Homo sapiens: one gene and its partners. The protein of the gene in region 1 purifies or fractionates together with the protein of each later gene. This does not show direct contact. Each region holds a gene or a part of one and is shown in the gene's direction. Other genes may lie near its edges. The genes, in order: LPAR4, RNASEL, LMBRD2, TAMM41, CAND2, NLRX1 and POTEF.

The links.
Region 2: the proteins of LPAR4 (region 1) and RNASEL purify together in Homo sapiens (affinity purification with mass spectrometry; 2 studies listed by BioGRID and IntAct, with this or other methods). This does not show direct contact.
Region 3: the proteins of LPAR4 (region 1) and LMBRD2 purify together in Homo sapiens (affinity purification with mass spectrometry; 2 studies listed by BioGRID and IntAct, with this or other methods). This does not show direct contact.
Region 4: the proteins of LPAR4 (region 1) and TAMM41 purify together in Homo sapiens (affinity purification with mass spectrometry; 2 studies listed by BioGRID and IntAct, with this or other methods). This does not show direct contact.
Region 5: the proteins of LPAR4 (region 1) and CAND2 purify together in Homo sapiens (affinity purification with mass spectrometry; 2 studies listed by BioGRID and IntAct, with this or other methods). This does not show direct contact.
Region 6: the proteins of LPAR4 (region 1) and NLRX1 purify together in Homo sapiens (affinity purification with mass spectrometry; 2 studies listed by BioGRID and IntAct, with this or other methods). This does not show direct contact.
Region 7: the proteins of LPAR4 (region 1) and POTEF purify together in Homo sapiens (affinity purification with mass spectrometry; 2 studies listed by BioGRID and IntAct, with this or other methods). This does not show direct contact.

What each region holds. Positions count from the first base shown.
Region 1 is NC_000023.11:78,750,720-78,754,219, forward strand, and holds part of LPAR4 (lysophosphatidic acid receptor 4), read left to right. Parts: exon of another isoform or gene 1-10; 5' UTR 11-73; intron 74-490; 5' UTR 491-592; intron 593-3,500. UniProt on the Homo sapiens protein: Receptor for lysophosphatidic acid (LPA), a mediator of diverse cellular activities. Transduces a signal by increasing the intracellular calcium ions and by stimulating adenylyl cyclase activity.
Region 2 is NC_000001.11:182,576,196-182,579,256, reverse strand, and holds part of RNASEL (2-5A-dependent ribonuclease), read left to right. Parts: intron 1-2,867; coding exon 2,868-3,001; intron 3,002-3,061.
Region 3 is NC_000005.10:36,117,388-36,120,887, reverse strand, and holds part of LMBRD2 (G-protein coupled receptor-associated protein LMBRD2), read left to right. Parts: intron 1-2,971; coding exon 2,972-3,153; intron 3,154-3,500. UniProt on the Homo sapiens protein: Recruited to ligand-activated beta-2 adrenergic receptor/ADRB2, it negatively regulates the adrenergic receptor signaling pathway. May also regulate other G-protein coupled receptors including type-1 angiotensin II receptor/AGTR1.
Region 4 is NC_000003.12:11,808,886-11,812,385, reverse strand, and holds part of TAMM41 (phosphatidate cytidylyltransferase, mitochondrial isoform a precursor), read left to right. Parts: intron 1-1,488; coding exon of another isoform or gene 1,489-1,610; intron 1,611-2,703; coding exon 2,704-2,869; exon of another isoform or gene 2,870-3,500. UniProt on the Homo sapiens protein: Catalyzes the conversion of phosphatidic acid (PA) to CDP-diacylglycerol (CDP-DAG), an essential intermediate in the synthesis of phosphatidylglycerol, cardiolipin and phosphatidylinositol.
Region 5 is NC_000003.12:12,799,680-12,803,179, forward strand, and holds part of CAND2 (cullin-associated NEDD8-dissociated protein 2), read left to right. Parts: intron 1-3,500.
Region 6 is NC_000011.10:119,171,725-119,175,224, forward strand, and holds part of NLRX1 (NLR family member X1 isoform 1 precursor), read left to right. Parts: intron 1-631; coding exon 632-701; intron 702-1,176; coding exon 1,177-1,265; intron 1,266-1,754; coding exon 1,755-2,374; intron 2,375-2,728; coding exon 2,729-3,500.
Region 7 is NC_000002.12:130,119,223-130,122,722, reverse strand, and holds part of POTEF (POTE ankyrin domain family member F), read left to right. Parts: intron 1-1,424; exon of another isoform or gene 1,425-2,114; 5' UTR 2,115-2,207; coding exon 2,208-2,728; intron 2,729-3,500.

The sequences.
Region 1 (3,500 bases):
CCTTATTAAGGACCCTGCCCAATGGTAACAGTTGTTGCCAAGAAAAGAAAAAAAGAAAAAAAAAAGACCCAATGTAAGTTCATGCCAAAACAAAATTCTCCTTTGTTTTGGTATTTTTAATGTAATGCATTACCTTATGGAAGTGGAGGAAATATTTTTATGTCTTTTGTCACTCATTATCTTTAAATTATTATAGGTTACCACATATGGATTTTATGCACTAGTGTTTAGTCAATACTACTAAAAAAATATAGCACAGCAGTGACAGGTTGGAAAATACATTGTTATCTGCAATTCTGTAATAATGAAATCCAATGCATGTAAATACCATTTTAAAATTTATTGGGTCTCATTTACTCTGGTTTATATCATATAATACTTTTTCTGTCTTATGATCTTCTATAAGATCATTTTATTGAAAATATACATTTTATTGAAAAGCTATCAGCTCTCTTTATGGCACACTATTATGACTATTTCTATTTCACAGCACCCATTGGAGGAAATCTCTAACTACAGTGCCTCCAGGAAACTCATTGGTTATTCCAGTCTTAGATAAAATTGGTGCCAGGATTTGGTTCGAACTAATGTGGTGAGTCCTACCCTCCTGAAAATTACTGAAATAATAATAATAACCTGAAAATGTGTAGAGAAACTGCAAATTCCTAATTTAATTCTCCAACTTTTGTTGTAACAAATAGTTCCAACTTTTTAAAGATTGTATCATCCGAAGATCTAGAATGGATGGAGGAATTGTAATTTGTTATAATCCAGGCAATTTTGATGAAGATGAATATTGATTCTTTAGCTCAACCCCTCTCTGCCACTGGGATTTACCTTTAGATATGGGAGACTCTTTTTATTGCTATTATCAGTTTCAGTGTCTAAGTATATCACATGAATTGGTGTCCAAATTGATAACTGATTTACCTGTTCAAATATATGGAATAATGTCAAAATCCTGGCTGGTATATATGACCCTTACAGAAATTGGAAATGAGTTATTTTGGGAACACCCAAAAATTGTCCCCAAAGATCTGGGGCTTCTGCTGAGATGAGATATTGAGTCTCAAGACTCAAGACAATTTTATAATATTAGGTTGAGCAATTTACCTGTAGTTTTCTTACTCTGTAACTAAGTACTAGGGAAAATTCTACTTTAGTAGGGCTGATGCAATCTTTGGCCCCATCATGTTGAGCACCAGACCACATTATTTCCCAAAGATTGGACTGTGTTATCAAGTGAAGTGTTAATAAGAGACTGAAGTATTTTTTTTCTTTTTTGATGAAAAGAAAAAAAAATATCAAGTTAATCACTGAGAACAGGATTTTATCAAATTGAGGCCCATATCAGTTTCCTGTTTTCCTCAAATAAAATGGAGAGACAAAGCAGCCTTAATAATCTTAGTGAAAACCAGATTAGGTGTAGATAAGCCACTTTTAAAAGGCTATTTCTTGCATCAAAAATAAAAGAGGTTGATTTAGATCAATTTCCTAGCTCCATTCTTGAGTGAAACATTTATCTATGGTTCCCTCCATATGGAATGCCATAAAGCTAGGTTTTGTTTCAAAAACTATTATGAAGCATCAACCAATGTATAGGAACACTGATATAAAACCTGTATGAGTGTGACCTATGCCTGTGACTTGACCTAGAGTCTTATCTGTTAGAAACCACTAATTTGAGAAGCAACAGTCTGAACATATTCCCTATCGCTCCAGCAGGATTGTTTTGAGCTGTATTTTTCACAACATTTGTGTATTTTTAAATCTGCTTCACTGCTAAGTATCTATACATAAGAACACAATAGATTTCATCTTCCTCTGAAAACTATTGTGTCAACTTTCATAAACTTTGACCAGAGTAGAACAAGGAAATGCTCTGGGGATCAGAAGCACTCTGACCTGGCCTGCGCTTATTAAAAATGGAGCAAAGCAAAAATAATTTTAGTATACTCTGCCTTCAAGGCCTTGTCTTCCTGAGCTCTGGACTGTCCTCTGTAGGGAGCAAAAGCAAGTCAGCTTTTCTAGGGTACCGGGCATATTTATGCCAGAAGTTGGAGCTTTGTTTTCAATGTATGATCTGAAAGTTTAGCACTTCATGAAGTGAAGTGATTTGGTTATTTATCCTTATAGGGCCAAAAGGCTAACTTTACTTCTTCCAGGAGCCTTAAGGACCCCAAATATGGTATACCTGTATTTTACTATCATTAGAAATTTTTTAAAAAAGAGGAAACAATTGTGGCCACTCTGAATTAGCTCCAGGTGTAGATTGAAGTTAAAAGTTGAGGGTCAGATTTATTTTTGGTCAACCTCCACGGGACCTGCTTCCTGTCCATTGTCAATAAAAATGCAGCTACCCAACACTCTCTGACACCCTTAGGTGATTAATTGTCAGAATAATTGGGAGCAGAGGTTTGCAGAAGACAGTAGTTTAATGCTCCTTGCAGTGGAAAATGTAATTAACTGCATCAGCATATATTTTTCCTTCTTCATTTCATCTGAAGCTCAAGTGTTGGTCCTTTGCCTCTATTTAGTGCACAATATGTTGGCTATTTAGGAAGATCTAATAGTTAGAAATGCTGTTTCTTTTAGTCAAAAGAAAGGAAGCCAGTAAGAAAAGAGGCTAATATTGATTCTTCTTCAGAATCATCTCAAGAGCCAAATGTCTTTCTGGTTTTTTAATCATACCTGTATGGGAAATATTACCTTGAGGGCACACTCCTGGATTGTCCTGTTTGAGTAAATTGTGTAGTTAAGGCTGAAACTCAAGGGGAGCTTTCTGAGGCACAAGGTATACATGACACTAGAAGGATGTGTTCCTAATGTGAACTTCAGTATACCAAAAAAGACAGAAATATAAAGTTACAGTTGTTTCAGGAAGGGAGGAAGAAACAAACTTACATAATGTTTCTCTGTAGTTAGGTAGGGCCGAATACTAGCAAGCTCATAAAGCAATTCACAAGCCCTATTGAATCTTCCTAGCTTTAGCTGTGAGGCTTAGAGGTAAAGTTTATACAAGGAAGAGAGAGAGTATAGCCAAGTTACAGAGTGAACCAGTGTCTGAGTCAGAAATAGAACTCCTTGCTTCTAATGCTGTGTTAAGTCCCAGCGCCACACCCTCACTTCTAGACGGCAAAGGTGGTTGTGTGTTCAAGCAATGGGAGCTATGAATAGGGCCACAGTGGCAGTTTTCCCATGCCCTCTCTTCAGGATTGAGAATGTAATGTTTTCTTGTCTGTCCTTTCTCTCCCACAAAGTTTGATTACTCAGAGCAGCAGAGCAGAAGTGCCAGGCATTTGCAGGCTGCTTGCTGTGGGTGTAATATATATGTTCCTGGAAACATAAAACTGAAGTGAGGGGATGGATGTGTTAATTAGCTTGACATAATCACCTCATGTAGTATACATATATTAAAACATCGCCTCGTACTTACATAAATGTAGTTCAATTATGATTTGTCAGTTAAACATAATGCAAATAAAAAATAAAATGATTGA
Region 2 (3,061 bases), on another chromosome or scaffold:
AGGCAAGGAGAAGCAAGTAACCTTGTTTAAAATATAAATTTTAGAGGGTACTAGTATAGTTTTGTTACATGGATATATTGTGTAGTGGTAAAGTTGGGCTTTTAGTGTAACCATTACCTGAATAACGCACATTGTACCCATTAAGTAATTTCTCATCCCTCTCCCTCCAACCCTCCCACCTTTCCAAGTCTCCAATTATATTATTCCACTCTGTACATCCATGTGTACACATTATTGAGCTCCCACTTATAAGAGAGAACATGTGATATTTGACTTTCTGTTTGTAAGTCATTTCACTTAAAATAATGGCCTCCAGTTCCGTCCATGTGGCCACAAAAGACATGATTTCATTCTTCTTTTTTATGGCTGAAATGGCCCAGACACATTTTCTTTATCCAATCATCTGTTGATGGACACTTAGGTGGATTCCATATCTTTGCTATTGTGAATAGTGCTGTAGTAAACATATGAGTGCCGGTATCTTTTTGATATAAGATTTCTTGGGCTGAGTGCAGTGGCTCACACCTGTAATCCCAGCACTTTGGGAGGCCGAGATGGGTGGATCATTTGAGGTCAGGAGTTTAAGACCAGCCTGGCCAACATGGCAAAACCCTGTCTCTACTAAAAATACAAAACTTAGCCAAGCATTGTGGCACACGTCTGTAATCCCAGCTACTTGGGCGGCTGAGGCATGAGAATTGCTTCAGCCTGTGAAGCAGAGGTTACAGCTTTATTTTGGCAGATACTCAGTACATTCTTTTCTCTGCATCCTCATCAACATCTGTTACTTTTTGACTTTTTAATAGTAGCCCCTAGTATAAGATGATATCTCATTGGTTTTAATTTGCATTTCTCTGATGATTAGTGATGTTAAGCATTTTTTCATATGCTTTTTGGCAATTTGTACGTCTTCTTTTGAGAAATGTCTATTCTTGTCATTTGCCCACTTTTTAATGGTGTTATTATTTTTTATTGTTAAGTTGTTTGAGTTCCTTGTAAATTCTGGATATCAATCCTCTGTTGGATGCATAGTTTGCAAATATTTTTTTTCCCATGCTGCAGGTTGTTTGTTCACTCTGTTTATTTCTTTTGCTGCGCAGAAGTTTTTAGTTTAATTAAACCCCATCTGTTTCTTTATTTTCATTGCTTGTGCTTTTGGGGTCTTAGTCATGAATTCTTTGCCTAGACCAATGTCCAGAAGAGTTTTTCCTAGGTTTTCTTTTAGTATTTTTATAGTTTCAGGTCTTACATTTAAGTCTTTAATCCATCTTGAGTTGATTTTTGTATACACTGAGAGAGAGAGGTCTAGTTTTAATCTTCTACATATGGCAGTCTAATTTTCCCAGCACCACTTACTGAATAGGGTGTCTTTTTCCCAGTGTATGTTTTTGCCGACTTTGTCTAAGATCAGTTGGTTGTAGATATGTGGCTTTATTTGTGGCTTCTGTATTCTGTTCCATTGATCTATGTGTCTATTTTTATACCAGTACTGTGCTGTTTTGGTTATCTTAGCCTTGCACAATAATTGGAGGTATATCATAATGTGATGCCTCCAACTTTGTTTTTTTTTCCTTAAGATGCCTGTGGCTATTTGGGCTCTTTTTTGGTTTCATGTGAATTTTAGGATTTTTTCTCTAATTCTGTGAAAAATGATGTTGGTATTTTGATAGGGATTGCATTGAATCTGTAGATTGCTTTGGGCGGGGTGATCACTTTAACAATATTAGTTATTCCTTTTGGAAATATACCTAAAAAAACAAAAACAAACAAACAAAACCGTTCACTTTGGCCATGGTTGCCAGGCCCAGTTTCAGTCTGAATAGCCCTTTTAAAGAAAGACATGTAATCAAGTACGAATTTGAAAGGGTGGCCACAGGATAAAAATATTGTATAGTATAATGAACGACTTTCCTAGTATAGTAGTCAAAGATTTTTTAACCATATTTTAATATATTTAATTTCTTATGAAAACAATTTACTTGGAAAATACAGACACACATTTGAACATACTTATAATCTCACATCCAGACACAATTATATATATAGTTTTAATTTTAAAATTTTTTTAATTTTTTTGCCAGGTGTGGCGGCTCACACCTGTAATCCCAGCACTTTGGGGGCCAAGGTGGGTGGATCACGAGGTCAGGAGTTTGAGACCAGCCTGGCCAACATGGTGAAACCCTGTCTCTACTAAAAATACAAAAAAAAAAAAATTAGCTGGGCATAGTGGCGGGTGCCTGTAATCCCAGCTACTCGGGAGGCTGAGGCAGGAGAATCGCTTGAACCCGGGAGGCGGAGGTTGCAGTGAGCCAAGATCGCACCACTGTACTCCAGCCCTGGTGACAGAGTGAGACTCCGTCTTGAAAAAAAAAAAATTATTTTTTTGAGATGGAGTCTTGCTCTGTTACTGAGACCGGAGTGCAGTGGTGCGATCTCAGCTCTCTGCAACCTCCACCTCCCAGGTTCAAGTGACTCTCCTGCCTCAGTCTCCCAAGTAGCTGGGATTACAGGCAGCGCCACCACGCCTGGCTAATTTTTTAGCAGAAACTTTTAGTAGAAACGAGGTTTCACTGTGTTGGCCAGGCTGGTCTCAATCTCCTGACCTCAGGTGATCCGCCCATTTCGGCCTCTGAAAGTGCTGGGACTACAGATGTGAGCCACCCCACCCAGCCCAGACACAATTATAGTTAGCATTTTGGTATACAGCATTTACTTCCATTTTTAAATTATTTTGCTTTATTAATTAGTTGGTAATTATAGAATATATGAATATATTCAAATTTATATTTTGCCTTTTGGTATGAATATTTCATCAGGATTTATTTTGTGTTGCTACCACATTTTTGTGTTATTTTTTGTTTTTTTAGATTAATGAATGTGTTATGAAAAAAATGAATAAGTTTTATGAAAAAAGAGGCAATTTCTACCAGAACACTGTGGGTGATCTGCTAAAGTTCATCCGGAATTTGGGAGAACACATTGATGAAGAAAAGCATAAAAAGTAAGTATTGTTTTCATTCCTACAAATTATATGTGAAATGAGAACAATTTAAAAAATCCA
Region 3 (3,500 bases), on another chromosome or scaffold:
GGGCCAGTGAGATAGGAAAATTAGGACAATGAAGTGTTTTGAGGAAAAGAGTATATAAAGTACCTTTTCAAATGTTGCACATAGATTAAGGATCATATATATTAAGACCTGACCATTGGATTTTAGAGAAGTGAGGGGAGAGGATAAAAAAGTCTGACTGTAATTTAAAAGAAATAAGAAGAGGAGCAATTGGAGACAGACTAGAAAACTCTAAAAATGTTTTCCTTATAAAAGGGAACAGAGAAAAGGGGTAGTAGCTGAAAGAGGATTGGGGGCATAGTCAAGAGAAATTATCACATGTAATTAGTAAATGATATAATAGAATTTGAGGCCAGGCGCGGTGGCTCACACCTGTAATCCCAGCACTTTGGGAGGCCGAGGCGGGCAGATCACAAGGTCAAGAGATTGAGACCATCCTGGCCAACATGGTGAAACCCCGTCTCTACTAAAAATACAAAAATTAGCTGGGCGTGGTGGTGCGTGCCTGTAGTCCCAGCTACTCGGGAGGCTGAGGCAGGAGAATCACTTGAACAGGAGGCGGAGGTTGCAGTGAGCCGAGATTGTGCCACTGCACTCCAGCCTACCTGTAGTCCCAGCTACTCGGGAGGCTGAGGCAGGAGAATCACTTGAACCCAGGAGGTGGAGGTTGCAGTGAGCCGAGATTGCGCCACTGCACTCCAGCCTACCTGTAGTCCCAGCTACTTGGGAGACTGAGGCAGGAGAATCGCTTGAACCCGGGAGGCAGAGGTTGCAGTGAGCCAAGATTGCACCACTACACTCCAGCCTGGGGACAGAATGAGACTCCGTCAAAAAAAAAAAAGAAATAAAGAGAGAGAGAGATGAAAGAAAAGAAAGACAAAAAGAAAGAAAGAGAGAAAGAAAGAAAGAGAAAGAAAAGAAAAAATTCATAGAATTTGATAAGACAATAGAGAATTTCTAAGACAATGTTCATGACTAGTAGAGATGAGATGGTGGGAAATAGTGAACAATGAAGAGAATGGTGGAGGTAAGGCACAGATGTAACTAGCTGAGAAGGTGTAGTGTTAGAAACTTGGGAAAATTCTCTGATCGCTTCTGTTTTCTCAATGAAATGTGGAGAGTAAGTATAGGAGAGGAGATTTTAGAGATTTGAGGAGGGAAGAGAAGGTGCAAAATAGTTGCCTAGGAGAGTGGCATGGGAGAAGATTGGGGAATTATAGTAGGCTAGTGAGGCAGTACTGAGGACCCACTTGAAGCTAGTGATTAAGAATTTAAAGTGAGGCCAGTCAACAAGGTGGGGTGTCTTTCTCCTGCAATGTGCAGCTGTGTGGATGCAGGCTGAGAGTAGCCAGCGAGTTGGATTTAAACAGGTGTGATTTAGCTTAGCAGGTACAGTGGAGCAAAATGGGGCAAAGTAAGTGGGATACTGTCCTCAAAGACTGGAATCTGAGCTGCATGAGGAAGGAAGGGTATCAAAGTGTTAAATAACGGTAAAATGTGATAGAATAAATTGATTTTTCATCCAGGTATGGTCAGTTAGTGGAGTTGAAATACTGTACTAGATGAAGGTATTGTTTGAAGACAAGGATGCTGGAATGTGATTATATGGAAGGGCTGGAGATATTGATAATAAAAGGTTTAGGCATCACTATAGCAACAAGTAATTGAGGTAGGGTGGAGGGAAAGTTCATTAGAGGAGAGGAGGTCAAAGAAATGAGAGATAAGGGTATTGAAAGGGGAATCATTTATGTGGATATTGAAATCACTAGGAATTATGAGAGGAAAGTTGTAAAGAATTACAGTGAACCAGAAGCTAACTATTCAGTAAATGAACTAAAAATATAGCTTTTTAATTTATTGAGCTTTCTTTTTTAAATTTTTATTTATACCTAAATTCAGACTTAAAACCAAAATAGTGCTGGGAGTGGTGCCTCACACCTGTAACCCCAACACTTTGTGAGGCCGAGGTGGGTGGATCATGGGGTCAGGAGATTGAGACCATCCTGGCTAACACGGTGAAACCCTGTCTCTACTAAAAATACAAAAAATTAGCTGGGCATGGTGGCACGTGTCTAATAAAAATACAGAAAATTAGATGGGAGTGGTGGCACACGCCTGTAATTCCAGTTACTTGGGAGGCTGAGGCAGGAGAATCACTTAAACCCCGGAGGCAGAGGTTGCAGTGAGCCGAGATCATGCCACTGCACTCCAGCCTGGGCGACAGAGCGAGACTCCATCTCAAAAAAAAAAAAACAAAAAACCAAAACAGTACAAAATATTCCCATATACCCTTCAACCAGGCTCTCCAATGTTAATATTTTGCCATATTGATTTGCTTTTTCTGTATGTATTTTTTTATTACTATTTTAGAGTTGTATCCAGACATGATGCCTCCTTGTTCCTAAATGTTTCCGTGTATATTTTCTAAAAATAAAGATATTTTCTTACATAGCCAAATACAGCCATCAAAATAAAAAAATTAATATTTATACTCTACCATTATTTACAGACCTTATTCAGATTTTGCTATAATTATCCCAATAATATTTTTTGTAAAAAATCCCAGATCATGCATCGCATTCAGTTGTTGTGTCTCCTTAGTTTCCTCTAATCTGACACAGTTTCTCAGTCTTTGTGTTTTATGATATATCAGAAATGTTTTGGGGAGTATAGGCCAGTTTTTTGTTGAATGTCCCTGAATTTGACTTTGATGTTTCTTTAAAATTAGACGCAAGTTCTGCATTTTTCACAGGACTACCACAGCAGCAATGTCACATTCCTATCAGTACATCATAGCAGGAGGCACATGATGTCAGTTTGTCCCATCATGGGTGTCATTTGGTTAGGTTCGTATCTGCCTGGATTCTCCACTGTAAAATTGCTGTTTTTCTCTTTGTAATTAAGTATCTTATTAGGAGCTATTTTGAAACAATGTAAATATCCCATTACTCTTTTGTAGTTTTCCTAATCATTTTTTTCTTTTGTCTTCTAGAATGGTACTGGGAATGTCTTTTGCGACCATGGTTTTACAAGATACTTGCTGTGGTTCTGTCCATCTTCTCTGTGATTGTTGTGTGGTCAGAGTGCACATTCTTTAGCACTACTCCTGTCTTATCCCTCTTTGCGGTCTTCATACAGCTGGCAGAAAAAACATATAATTATATTTATATCGAGGTCAGTTTATTTTATGTCTGTCATAAATAGATGTCACTTCATAGTATAATCCTTAACTATTTTCTCCATGTATTTCTTCTAGTAAAAATGAAAGCAGTGAGGTTTTCTGCAGTGTTGTTATTCAAACTTCCAGAAATGTGCTTCATTATTTTACCCACACTATAGAAATTAATAACTGTATTTGAGGAGAGATGAAAAGTTGCAAGATAGTGCAGAAATCTGAGATTTTTTTTTTCTTTCTGTTTTTTTTGGAGGCAGAATCTTGCTCTGTCACCCAGGCTGGAGTGTGGTGGCATGAACATGGCTCACTGCAGCCTCAACTTCCCGGGCTCAAGAAATCCTCTCAC
Region 4 (3,500 bases), on another chromosome or scaffold:
TCCTCGCAGGACAGTGTCTTCAGGCTGTGCCACTGCTCTGAGTTGACACATAAAATTATCTGCCTTACCCTTGCATCTTTTAGGTCTACAGGTGGTGCTCATCTCTGCCATTCGTCCTGGGATATGGTTTTATTTTTTCTTTACTCTTTTGGCCAGGGGGAGAGAATGGCAGCTTCATGCCTTTAATCCCAGCACTTTGGGAGGCTGAGGTGGGTGGATCAGTTGAGGCCAGGAGTTCAAAACTAGCCTGGCCAACATGGTGAAACCCCATCTCTACTAAAAATACAAAAATTAGCCAGGCATGGTGGTGTGCGCCTGTAATCCCAGCTACTCGGGAGGCTGAGGCATGAGAATCACTTGAGCCTAGGAGATGGAGGTTGCAGCGAGCTGAGATCGCGCCACTGCACTCCAGCCTGGGCAACAGAGCGAGACTCTGTCTCAAAAATAATAATAACAAAATATTAGCTTTATTGATGAATACCTCATACACCATAAAAGCTAGTGTTTATAGTATAGTCACAGAGCTGCACAGCCATCACCACAATGTAATTTTAGAATATTTCTGTCACTCCATACCCTTTAGCCGTCCCCAGCTCTCCCCTCACCCAGGCAACCACTAATCCACTTCTGTCTCTGTAATTTTTCTGTTCTGGACAGTTCATATGCATGGAATCATATAAAGTTTTTTCCATATCTGCTTTTTTCTTAAGTTGACATATAATAATTGTATCCATGTCCGCTTTTAAAATGCAATTTGACTTTCACAGTTTAGCTGAATGCTTTCACTTTCGTTATTTTAATGAGAGTTAGTGTAAGGAAAATGAGAATTTACCAAATTTTTAAATCATGTCACCTGGTATTTTATCTTTACACTCATGCTTTCAAGTGAAAATTCCAGTGCATTATTTTCCTCAAGAGAAAGCAGTGGCAGATAAGTACTTTCTAATTTTTTTATATGTCACTCAAGCCGTTGGAAGCTTCATAGGTAAAGCATAACTTAAATATAAGTTTATTCTAACTAATCCCAATATGTGGCCTCAAAACATAAGTCCATAAATGTCATTTCTAAGATTATTTTACATAAATACTCAAATTTGTTGTCATTTTTGTAGCCAAAGCTAAGTAGAGGATGGGGCCTGTGAATTTAGAACCATCCTAGTGATAAATATCAAATATTTAGATAAAAACCTAAATATTTACCCCTCTAGCTTTATGGAGCCATTAAATAATAACATTTTTCTCCTTCTCTTCATAGAGTTTATAGACAAAACTAGAAAATTCAGGTATTTGGTATATACTTTTTTGTTTTTTTTGATACCATCTTGGTCTTGTCACCCAGGCTGTAGTGCAGTGGCACAATCACCACTCATCGTAGCCTCAACTTCCCAGGCTCAAGTGATCCTCCCACCTCAGCCTCCCAAGTAGACAGAACTGTAGGCTTGCACCACCATGTCTGGCTTTTTTTTGTTTTCTTTTTTTTTTTCGTAGAGCCGGATATCTCACTCTTTTGCTAGGGCTGATGTTGAATTTTTGTGCTCAAGCAATTCTCCTGCCTCAGCCTCCCAAACTGTTGGGATTACAGGTGTGAACCTGTGCTCCTGGCCCATTTGGTATGTACTTAATAAATATTTATTCAATTTAAAAAATGGTAGAATGAGTGGATTCTAATTATTAAGAAAGTTCGTCCTATCTGTAAACTCTAAGCCTAAAATGTAATACATTGATCTGATTTTTTCTTACTCTTCTCTTAGTTGAAGTTAAAACCTAAATATTTGTTAAAAGGATACAAGACAGATTCTTCCTTGGGAAATAATGTGATGGGCTGTTGAGGGCAGTGTTACTGGTTCTGCACTTGGCAGGAAATCAATGTTTACAAGATTTTTAAAAATTCATTCCACGAGGCACAGTGTATGAAACTTGGAGTTAGGAAAGCTAGGTCTGGCCTCAGCTCTGTGGCTAACTTTTGATTCAAGGGTTTCTGAGTAAAGTCTGACACATAGTTTTACATGTTTTATTTATATATTTATCTTCAGCACCTTAGTATGTTTTAGAATACTTTGGGAACCGAAGCCGCTGGCATAGTAGCTTTAGGACAACTAAGTTGTATTGATTCAGTTACTCATTTCCTTATTGTTTTTTGAGTACCTACTGTGTGCTGGGGATTAAAAGTAAGTAAGATTAGTTTCTGTCATCAGTGTATTCCTACAGTTTGTGAAATACAGCATACTAAAAGGCCCTACAGGCAGGAGACACAATTCAGATCCCACTTACTCTCATTGGTGATGTGATCAGGGCACGCCAGTCTCCCTGTGTTTGAAATGGGAGGGGTCATCTCAGTGCCTGGATTTGACGCGGCCTCCACGAGTGTCAACTGCAGCACCACTTCCTTTGACTGCTGGATTTAAGACAAATATAAATTTTAAAACCAAAAGTCAGAAATTGATCCTTGAGAGTGGCTTCTATTCTTTTCTCAGGTAGAAATGGAATATTATAGGACAAGAATTGTCCTTTTTGAAGGGACTTAGACTCCTGAACACTTACCCATTCAGTTTCAGAAAAAGAGAGTTTCCTTAGCTTGCTGCCTCGCCAGGGGTGTGGGTGCATATATGTTTGTGTGATTTTTAAAGAGAAGCCCTGAGTTTTGGAGTATTTGTAGGATTTAAAGCACTTCCATAGACGTCGTCTTTTTTTTCCTCCCTTCAGATAGATAAAAGCCCAGAAGGACAGTTCACTCAGCTGATGACATTGCCCAAAACCTTACAGCAACAGATAAATCATATTATGGACCCTCCTGGAAAAAACAGAGATGTGGAAGAAACTTTATTCCAAGTGGCTCATGATCCCGACTGTGGAGATGTGGTGCGACTAGGTACGTTTATGAATTTGATGTTGAGGAAATGCCAGCCATGGGGAAAAGCAGACTTTGTTTGTGATTGGAATGTATTATTTCTTCCTTTTTGTTTAGCGAGATAGAGAGATTGCCTCTCAGAAGAAGAAAGCACTAAAAATTTGAGGGTTTTCTAAATCTGCATTTTTATTTGTTTGAAGTAAGATGGTGAAAATACTTCTGTTTTTAAATTCCTGGATCCTAAATCACTGTCAAAGGGAGAAACAATGTTTCTTTTGGTTCCTAGAGCACAACTTCTAGAATTTATTTAAAAGATGTGTCTGTGTTTTGTGGTGGTCTGAGAAAAGAGATTGGTGGCATTTTTTTGTGCTTTTATAACATCGAGAACACAGCTTTCCTCAATCAACTCCATTTGATGTGTCTCATACATTGTTGAGTACATTCCCTCAGACATGGCCCACGTTCCACAGCATTTTCCCCAGCACTGCCCTGATGTTTATCCAAAACTCTGAACCCAGGCCAGGTGCAGTGGCTCACGCCTGTACTCCCAACACTTTAGGAAGTCCAGGAGGGAGAATCACTTGAGGCCAGGAGTTTGAGACCAGCTTGGGCAACAGAGCAAGACCCTGTCTCTGCAAAAATTACAAAAGTA
Region 5 (3,500 bases), on another chromosome or scaffold:
GATAAACCTGATGAGCCTCTGCCCTCAGTGAGTGTACAGTCCAATGGAGAAGATGCTCTGGTGGCCAGACTTGTATTGCAGTGTGAGAAGTGCTATAAAGGAGGGGTGCAGAGTGCTCTGAAAGGATCTTGTCCAGGGAACCATTGTGCTTAGGGGCTGTGGATGCAGGGGTAGGGCAGGGAGGTCAGTCATCCTTGAGCTGGGACATTTGAGCTGGGCTCTTGATGGGTGAATAGGAGGAGCTCAACAGATGAAGAAGAAGAGCGGGGATAGAAGGCCTATCTTGGGCAAAGAGGCACATCGCCTGGGTTGCCAGGCTGAGCTGGGCCCCCATGGACTGCAGCAGAAACACAACTTGGAGACCCTGGGTGCCATCTCAGAATGTCCCCTCAGCTGAGCAGACGTAGGGGTGCATGTGCTCACCTCAGGCCTTGGCCTGGCTCAAATCCAAACCTCCTCCTTCACTTTACCTTTGCCCAGAGGTGGGCACAGTCAGTCCTGCCATCCTGCCCATGCTGCCAGCCCAGCCTCCTTCTCTCTCCTAGCAACTTGTGGCTAATCTACCTGTTAAAAATAAATAGGTCATCGACCAGTCCACCCCTGGTAACAGGGCACTGTGGGCTGCAGTGACATCTAGGAGCAGGTCTGAGTCTGCACAGATGAGAGCCAGAATCCCAACTGTGATAGATTTTGCCACAGGAGGCGGGGGTCAGGGCTCTTGGTTGATTTGCTCAACCATGCTGGAAAGCAGGGCCAGCGTGGGGTGGTAGAGTGGCCCAGCAGGGTCAGTAAAAGCTGGAGGCTTTCTCCGAGGCAGCCTTACAGTATCTCCTCGCTGCTCTGTCCTGTTTTCTCCTGAGACTCCGCTCTCACATGCCTGCAGGAGCCAGTCAGTGGGTGAAGTGGGCCTAGTGGGGACCAGGTGAACTGGGGAGAGGGCAGCCACAACCTGATTCTAATCAGGTATTGTCACCAGGGATTGTAGGCCCCGTTGTACTCAAATATTCTGTTTTCAAGATAATCTGGAAGTCAGTGTTTTGTTTTTGTTTTTGTTTTTGTTTTTTTTTGAGTCTCACTCTGTCACCCAGGCTGGAGTGCTGTGGCACGATCTTGGCTCACTGCAACCTCTGCCTCCTGGGTTCAAGTGATTCTCCTGCCTCAGCCTCCCAAGTAGCTGGGACTACAGGTGTGCACCACCATACCTGGCTAATTTTCGTATTTTTAGTAGAGATGGGGTTTCCCCCTGTTGGCCAGGCTGGTCTCTAATTTCTGACCTTAAGTGATCTGGCGACCTTGGCCTCCCAAAGTGCTGGGATTGCAGGCGTGAGCTGCTGCGCCCAGCCTGGAAATCAGTATTTTTTTTTTTTTTTTTTTTTGAGATGGATACTCGCACTGTTACCCAGGCTGGAGTGCAGTGGCACGATCTCAGCTCACTGCAACCTTTGCCTCCCGGGTTCAAGTGATTCACCTGCCTCAGCCTTCCCAGTAGCTAGGATTACAGGTGTCTGCCACCGCGCTCGGCTAATTTTTGTATTTTTAATAGAGACAGGGTTTCACCATATTGGCCAGGCTGATCTAGAACTTTTGACCTCAGGTGATCCACCCGCCTCAGCCTCCTAAAGTGCTGGGATTACAGGCGTGAGCCGCCATGCCAGGCCAAAGTCAGTATTTTTGTGTCAACTTTCCCAATGTTCAAATGTTGACAAGTAATTTAAATTTTTGAAAACATGTTTGCAAGCTGGACACAGCTGAGGGCTACTAGTTTCAGACCTCTGCTCCTACCCTCTTAATTTTGGCGGGAATGGTGCCCAATTCCCGCACCATTCCTCGACTTGGAAAGTTGGCCCCAGCCTCAACTTTCCGTGGCTTCCAGCTTAGACTCCCACTGCAGTTTCAAATGCCTGGGACAGCATCAGGCTTTTGGTGTCAGGCCCCATGAATCCCTCACCTCCGGGTGGGTAGCCCTTGCCTCTGGTGCCCACCCTAGGTCAGTGAGCCAGTCAGCTATTGGCGCTGGTCTCCAAAATATGCCCATGCCCATCAGCATGGCGTGGGGCAGTGGTTTTCAAAGTGTGGTCCCTGACCCTCAGTGTCCTCCAGGAATTTGTTAGAAATGTGGATTCCTGGGCCCCAACTCAGACCTGCTGATTCAGAAACTCTGGGAATGGGGACTAGTATTATTTAACAAGCGCTGCTGGTGATTCTGATGCTGGCTATAGCTGGAGATCCACTGCTCTAAGGGCAGGGACTGAGCCGGTTCTCTGAGATGGGAGTGGACAGGGCTCGCCCTCCTCCATCTGTTTGGCAGACAGGCCTCTAGCTCTGACTTGGACACAAGGTGTCTGTTCAACCTTCTGGTATCCCTTGGCTGGGCGCGGTGGCTCACGCCTGTAATCCTAGCATTTTGGGAGGCCGAGGTGGGCGGATCACGAGGTCAGGAGATCAAGACCATCCTGGCTAACACAGTGAAACCCCACCTCTACTAAAAATACAAAAAATTAGCCGGGCGTGGTGGCCGGCACCTGTAGTCCCAGCTACTCGGGAGGCTGAGGCAGGAGAATGGTGTGAACCCAGGAGATGGAGCTTGCAGTGAGCTGAGATCGTGCCACTGCACTCCAGCCTGGGCAACAGAGCAAGACTCCATCTCAAAAAACAAAACAAAACAAAACAACCTTCTGGCATCACTTTCTCAGCTGTTGTGAGATGTGGATGATGTCCTGTGCCATTATAATAATGGCAGTGCCATTTACTGAGCACACACCATGTGCACTTAAAACACCATGAGGCAGGTACTAGTCTCATCCCTGTTTTCAGACAGGTAAACTAAGGCTTGGAGAGGTGAAATGACTTGCCCAAGTTCACACTCATAAATGGCTGAGGCGGGGGCCACCGATCCTGAAACATTATGCATTTAGCCAGCATGCTGAGCCGTTGCTAGTCTGCCACTATGTGGCAGTTGGTGTCACACATATGTGGGTCTCCTTGTAGCCCAACCATGCCCACTGCCCAAATAATCCACCATCATGTGGCACTTAACGACGGGGAAACATTCTGAGAAGTGCATCCTTAGGCGATTTTGTCCTTGTGTGAACCTCATAGAGTGTGCCTACACAACCTAGATGGTAGAGCCTACTACACTCCCAGGCTATATGGTGTGGCCTGTTGCTCCTAGGCTACAAACCTGTATTGAGTACTGTAGGCAGTTGTAACAGAGTGGTATTTGTGTGTCTAAACATAGAAAAGGTACAGTAAAAATAAGGTAGAAAAGATTAAAATGGCATGCCTGTATAGGGCAGCTCCATTAAAATCTTTTTTTTTTTTTTTTTTGGAGACGGAGTCTCTCTCTGTCGCCCAGGCTGGAGTACAGTGGCATGATCTTGGCTCACTGCAAGCTCCGCCTCCCGGGTTCACGCCATTCTCCTGCTTCAGCCTCCCAAGTAGCTGGGACTACAGGCGCCCGCCACCACACCTGGCTAATTTTTTGTATTTTGTTTAGTAGA
Region 6 (3,500 bases), on another chromosome or scaffold:
GGCGGATCACAAGATCAGGAGTTTGAGACCAGCCTGGCAACATGGTGAAACCCTGTCTCTATTAAAACTACAAAAAAAAAAATTAACCAGGTGTAGTGGTGCACACCTGTAATCCCAGCTAGTTGGGAGGCTGAGGCAGGAGAATCATTTGAACCGGGAGGCAGAAGTTGCAGTGAGCTGAGATCGCACCATTGCACTCCAGCCTGGACAATAGAGTAAGACTCTGTCTCAAAAAAAAAAAAAGAGAGTTGGACTAGATCATCTTCGAGAGTCTCTTGTAGCTACATAAGTCTAGGAACTTGTCTGATTTTACTTTACATACAACAGAGATTTACTGAGTGCCTGCCGTACCGCAGACCTGGTGTTAAGTTCTAAGTAAATAATTGTGAACAAAAACAGACGTAAAGGGGACAAAAAAATTTTAAAACACCCAAATGTGATCCCTCTCATGGAGGAGAGAGGAATGAATGTTAATCGAATAATCACACAATGAAATATAAAATTGCAAAATAACTGCTGCAAAGGGGCAGTACATGCTGCTATGAGAGCAAATACTGGGGGGTTTGATGTAGACATGGGTTCTGTGTATTGCATGGGATCTGCAGATGCTATTTCTTCCTTCTCTCTGTAGATGATCGTATCCCCTTCCTGATCCACTGGAGTTGGCCCCTTCAAGGGGAGCGTCCCTTTGGGCCCCCTAGGTGAGGCCTGGGTGTCATACCTTAGGACTAGTCTGGGCACAACAGAGCAGACTGGGAAGGGTCAGGACTTGGGGCTAGCTTGATCTCTTGGGGACCTTGGGGAGGGGCTTGGTCCTTTGGGGGTGGGAGGACAGTGGCAGCTCCAAGGCCTGAGAGGAAGTTGGCTTAGATCATCTGTGGTAGAAGGCATAGTAGTCAGTGGAGGGAGGACCCTGTGGGAAGTGGGTGGAGCCTCACATGGCCAGCCTGAGTTCCAGGCGGGCAGTCAGCAGTGGGGTCTGGAGGGCTAGGGCTAAGGCCTCAGCACCTGGGAAGGGTGTGAGAGTCAGACAAGCCTCTAAACTTGGGGGTCCAGTGTGGGGCCTTTATCTCAGGAAACCAGAAGTCTAGCAGTGCAGATAGGCTTGGACCCAGAGCCTGTGAAGGGGCTGATCCAAGTTACAAGTCCCAGCTCATCCCCTCTCCTTGTTCCCAGGGCCTTTATACGCCACCACGGAAGCTCGGTAGATAGCGCTCCCCCACCCGGGAGGCATGGACGGCTGTTCCCCAGCGCCTCTGCAACTGGTAAAGGGACTGGCTGGGACCCTGGTCAGGGGGTGTGGTGGGCAGACGGGGCTGGAAGGAGAAGCAGGGTGAGGGAGGCATAGAGGATCCACTGCCATCTTCCATCGGTGGTCCCTCCTCCTCTCTCTCTCTCCCTCCCATCCGTCTATGTATCCCTTCCTGCAATACTCTTGCAATGCACACTTATATGTACAAAGCGCTAGGAGAGCCATACCATCCCTATGCTCAACAAAGTTGGGTCAAGCAGGTTAAGACGGCACATAGGTCACTGTGAAACCAGTTTGTCCAGTGGCTTCCCACTTTCTGACATAGGGGTTCCAGACTTTCTGGACAGTCTATATTTTCTCAGGGAGTCTTGTGTGCCCACCATTGTGGGCCCCAGCATCTATGCCGTGATGTCCCAGCCTGACCTCACCACCGCCCTGATTGGCCCTAAGCTACATCTCCAGGCCCCTTTCCCTGACACATTTCCCTTATCTTCCCACTCAGAAGCTATACAGCGGCACCGCCGGAACCTGGCTGAGTGGTTCAGCCGGCTGCCCAGGGAGGAGCGCCAGTTTGGCCCAACCTTTGCCCTAGACACGGTCCACGTTGACCCTGTGATCCGCGAGAGTACCCCTGATGAGCTACTTCGCCCACCCGCGGAGCTGGCCCTGGAGCATCAGCCACCCCAGGCCGGGCTCCCCCCACTGGCCTTGTCTCAGCTCTTTAACCCGGATGCCTGTGGGCGCCGGGTGCAGACAGTGGTGCTGTATGGGACAGTGGGCACAGGCAAGAGCACGCTGGTGCGCAAGATGGTTCTGGACTGGTGTTATGGGCGGCTGCCGGCCTTCGAGCTGCTCATCCCCTTCTCCTGTGAGGACCTGTCATCCCTGGGCCCTGCCCCAGCCTCCCTGTGCCAACTTGTGGCCCAGCGCTACACGCCCCTGAAGGAGGTTCTGCCCCTGATGGCTGCTGCTGGGTCCCACCTCCTCTTTGTGCTCCATGGCTTAGAGCATCTCAACCTCGACTTCCGGCTGGCAGGCACGGGACTTTGTAGTGACCCGGAGGAACCGCAGGAACCAGCTGCTATCATCGTCAACCTGCTGCGCAAATACATGCTGCCTCAGGTGGGTGGCCCTTTACCCCAGGTTATCACTGCTGCCCGTTGACTCGCCCCCTAGGTCCTGGGTTACTTTAACTCCTGGTCCCTTCACTTCCCAGTGGTGCGACCCTGAGCAAGTCAGTAACTTCCCCAGCCTTCTGTTCCTTTCTTTTTGAGTTGCTCTGATCAAATGGGGTACTGCATATAATATTAGCACAGCGGCCTGGATCACAGCAGGTGTTCAGTAATTGCTAGTTATAACTGTTATCCTCATCAATGTCTTCATCCTTGGACACTCCGTCTTCAGGGGTCCCCTGGGAATAGAAGCAGTCAACAGGACACTAAGGTCTTTCTTAACTCTCAACCATGCTCTTCCCAGGCCAGCATTCTGGTGACCACTCGGCCCTCTGCCATTGGCCGTATCCCCAGCAAGTACGTGGGCCGCTATGGTGAGATCTGCGGTTTCTCTGATACCAACCTGCAGAAGCTCTACTTCCAGCTCCGCCTCAACCAGCCGTACTGCGGGTATGCCGTTGGCGGTTCAGGTGTCTCTGCCACACCAGCTCAGCGTGACCACCTGGTGCAGATGCTCTCCCGGAACCTGGAGGGGCACCACCAGATAGCCGCTGCCTGCTTCCTGCCGTCCTATTGCTGGCTCGTTTGTGCCACCTTGCACTTCCTGCATGCCCCCACGCCTGCTGGGCAGACCCTTACAAGCATCTATACCAGCTTCCTGCGCCTCAACTTCAGCGGGGAAACCCTGGACAGCACTGACCCCTCCAATTTGTCCCTGATGGCCTATGCAGCCCGAACCATGGGCAAGTTGGCCTATGAGGGGGTGTCCTCCCGCAAGACCTACTTCTCTGAAGAGGATGTCTGTGGCTGCCTGGAGGCTGGCATCAGGACGGAGGAGGAGTTTCAGCTGCTGCACATCTTCCGTCGGGATGCCCTGAGGTTTTTCCTGGCCCCATGTGTGGAGCCAGGGCGTGCAGGCACCTTCGTGTTCACCGTGCCCGCCATGCAGGAATACCTGGCTGCCCTCTACATTGTGCTGGGTTTGCGCAAGACGACCCTGCAAAAGGTGGGCAAGGAAGTGGCTGAGCTCGTGGGCCGTGTTGGGGAGGACGTCAGCCTGGTACTGGGCATCATGG
Region 7 (3,500 bases), on another chromosome or scaffold:
AAATTATAGCACATTGATGAAAGAAATTGAAAGTGACAAATAGAAAAAGTCCTATATCAATTGAAAAAATTAATATTGTCAAAATTTCAATGCTACTCAAAGCATTCTACAGATTAAATGCAACCGCTGTCAAATTCCAATGTCATTCTTCACAGAAATAGAAAAATTAGTCCTAAAATCTGAATGGAACCACAAAAGATGCTGAAAAACGAAAGCAATCTTTAGCAAAAAGAACAAACCTGGAGGCATCAGACTACCTAATCTTTGACAAAGCAAACAAGAAAATGGGAAAGGACACCCTATTCAACATATGCTGCTGGTATAATTGGCAAGCCACATGCAGAAAAATGAAGCCGTTCTTCAAAGGTTAAATACAGAATTACCACATGACTCAGTAAATTCACTCCTATGTATACACCAAAAATAAATTAAAACAAATGCCTTACACATAAAAGTATTTATAGCAACAAAAAGTAGGAAACAACAGAAATGTCCATGAATTTTGGAGTGGATTAATAAAATGTGGTCTGTCCATAAAATAAAATATTACTTGGCAATGAAAAAGAAAAACATATTAATACATGCTCCAAAAAGGATGAACATTGAAAACATGATAAATGAAAGTAGTAAGTCACACGTAACTATATTATTATGATTCCACTTACATGAAATGTCCAGAATAGGCAAATCCTTCCAGAATAGGCAAATTCTTAGGTAATAGATGGATGATTGCCTAGGGCTGGGAGAGGTTTAAAGGAAGAATGGGGAAAATAGGGAAAGATTGCTAATGGGTGCAAAGTTTCTTTTAAGGAGCATAAAAATGTTCTAAAATCATGGTGATTGTTTAACTAGTTAATACACTTAAAAAACTGAATTTTATACTTTAAATGAGTGAATTAAATAATATATAAATTGTATCTCAATGAACCTGTGAAAAAAGTTAAAAAATATGTGGTATGCATAAACAAAAAGTTCTTCATTTTATTTCCTAGGGTTTTGGGGAAAAGGTGGTGTTTGATTATATGAGTAAGTTCTTTAGAGGTGATTCAGGAGATTTTGGTGCACCCAACACCTGTGCAGTATACACTGTATACACTGCACCGGGGCAGGAGCTGGCTGCAATCCTGTGGCCCCAAATGCCCCCTTGCTGATGGCCTCGTGTTCTGGGTGCGGAGCAAAGAGGAGCAGGTGTTGAAGGCACCTCAGGCAGGCCCTGGGCTCGGTGGGCGTCTTGTGCTCCGCGATTTTGAGGCCATTTGCAGCCAGCTCCGTCAGCCCGAGCTCCCAGCTGCAGCTGCTGCCATGCACAACAGCACCGCCAGGAGTGTCCTGGGGGCTTTTTTCAAAGGAGGCTGTCAGCATCCTCAAGTTCCAGACGCTTAGCCCCAGTCCTCCTTTAAGAGGCTTTTTTTTTTTCACCAGAGGCTTCTCAGTGGCTTGAAAGCTCAGCTGACTCCCACGAAGTTTGCCGGAACTCAAGGCTGTCAGTGACATTCGTGGCGCCAAGACTTAAGCAGGCGCGTTGCATGCATCGGCCAGTGTCTGTGCCACGTGCCCTGACGCCACCTGAGATAAGCACGCCGCACGCGCACGCGCACGCCGCGCGCACACGCCCGGCAGCAGCTTGGCTGGCTTGTAACGGCTTGCACGCGCACGCCGCACGCGCATAACGGTTTGGCCGGCCTGTAACGGCTTGCACGCGCACGCCGCACGCGCGTAACGGCTTGGCTGGCCTGTAATGGCTTGCACGCGCATGCTGCACGCGCTTTAACGGCTTGGCTGGCCTGTAGCGGCTTGGCTTGGCTTTGCGTTCTTGGCTTGGCTTGGCGTTGGTAGCTTGGATTGACGTTTCCTGCTTGGATTGACGTTTTCTCTCTCGTGTTCCTTTGCTGGGCTTGACCTTTTCTCTGCTGGGTTTGGCATTCCCTTGGGTGGGCTGGGTGTTTTCTTGGGGGCGGGGGTTGGCCCTTTCTGGGGTGGGCGTGGGGTCGCCCAGGGGGGGCGTGGGCTTTCCTCGGGTGGGTGTGGGTTTTCCCTGGGTGGGGTGGGCTGGGCTGGAATCCCCTGCTGGGGTTGGCAGGTTTTGGCTGGGATTGACTTTTCTCTTCAAACAGATTGGAAACCCGGAGTTACCTGCTAGTTGGTGAAACTGGTTGGTAGACGCGATCTGTTGGCTACTACTGGCTTCTCCTGGCTGTTAAAAGCAGATGGTGGTTGAGGTTGATTCCATGCCGGCTGCCTCTTCTGTGAAGAAGCCATTTGGTCTCAGGAGCAAGATGGGCAAGTGGTGCTGCCGTTGCTTCCCCTGCTGCAGGGAGAGCGGCAAGAGCAACGTGGGCACTTCTGGAGACCACGACGACTCTGCTATGAAGACACTCAGGAGCAAGATGGGCAAGTGGTGCCGCCACTGCTTCCCCTGCTGCAGGGGGAGTGGCAAGAGCAACGTGGGCGCTTCTGGAGACCACGACGACTCTGCTATGAAGACACTCAGGAACAAGATGGGCAAGTGGTGCTGCCACTGCTTCCCCTGCTGCAGGGGGAGCAGCAAGAGCAAGGTGGGCGCTTGGGGAGACTACGATGACAGTGCCTTCATGGAGCCCAGGTACCACGTCCGTGGAGAAGATCTGGACAAGCTCCACAGAGCTGCCTGGTGGGGTAAAGTCCCCAGAAAGGATCTCATCGTCATGCTCAGGGACACTGACGTGAACAAGCAGGACAAGCAAAAGAGGTAACCAGGCCTGGGCTGGGAGGAGGTGGGACGTGGGGGGATGATGGGGACATACCCTCCTGGCGGGGGAGGAGGGGGACCTGGCTTTCTCGCCTCCGCAGGCCTCACACCACCCTGGATGTGGAAACCTCAGAGAGGTCAGGGTACAGGGCCCTTTATGAACAGCAACACAAAAACAAAACTTTAGCTGATTTCCAATCATAATTTCCCTCATAGAACACTAATAGACTGTTTTAAAGTGATTTAACTTGCAAAATTAATTAAGTCAATGCAGCAGATTATTTTTAATCTACAGATTTTAAAACAATGTTCTATACATTATAGAAAAGTGTATATTGAGAACTAAGAACGAAGCCCCATAACACATCAACTTCAGGGCTAAATATTCTTCAAATAAAATCCAGTATGGATTTTATATCAATGTACAGTATGTAAATATGTTCTTTACTGAGGAACCTTAGAAGGAAACTGAAATGGGAAGATGGTTCCTGTGCTTGAACAGGAAGATTGAATTTTCTTAAGATGTGAGCTTTTTGGCTGGGCGCGGTGGCTCACGCCTGTAATCCCAGCACTTTGGGAGGCGGGCGGATCATGAGGTCAGGAGATTGAGACCATCCTGGCTAACACGGTGAAACCCTGTCTCTACTAAAAAATATAAAAAAAATTAGCCGGGTGCGGTGGTAGACGCCTGTAGTCCCGGCTACTCAGGAGGCTGAGGCAGGAGAATGGCGTGAACCCGGGAGGTGGAGCTTGCAGTGAGCCGAGATAGTGC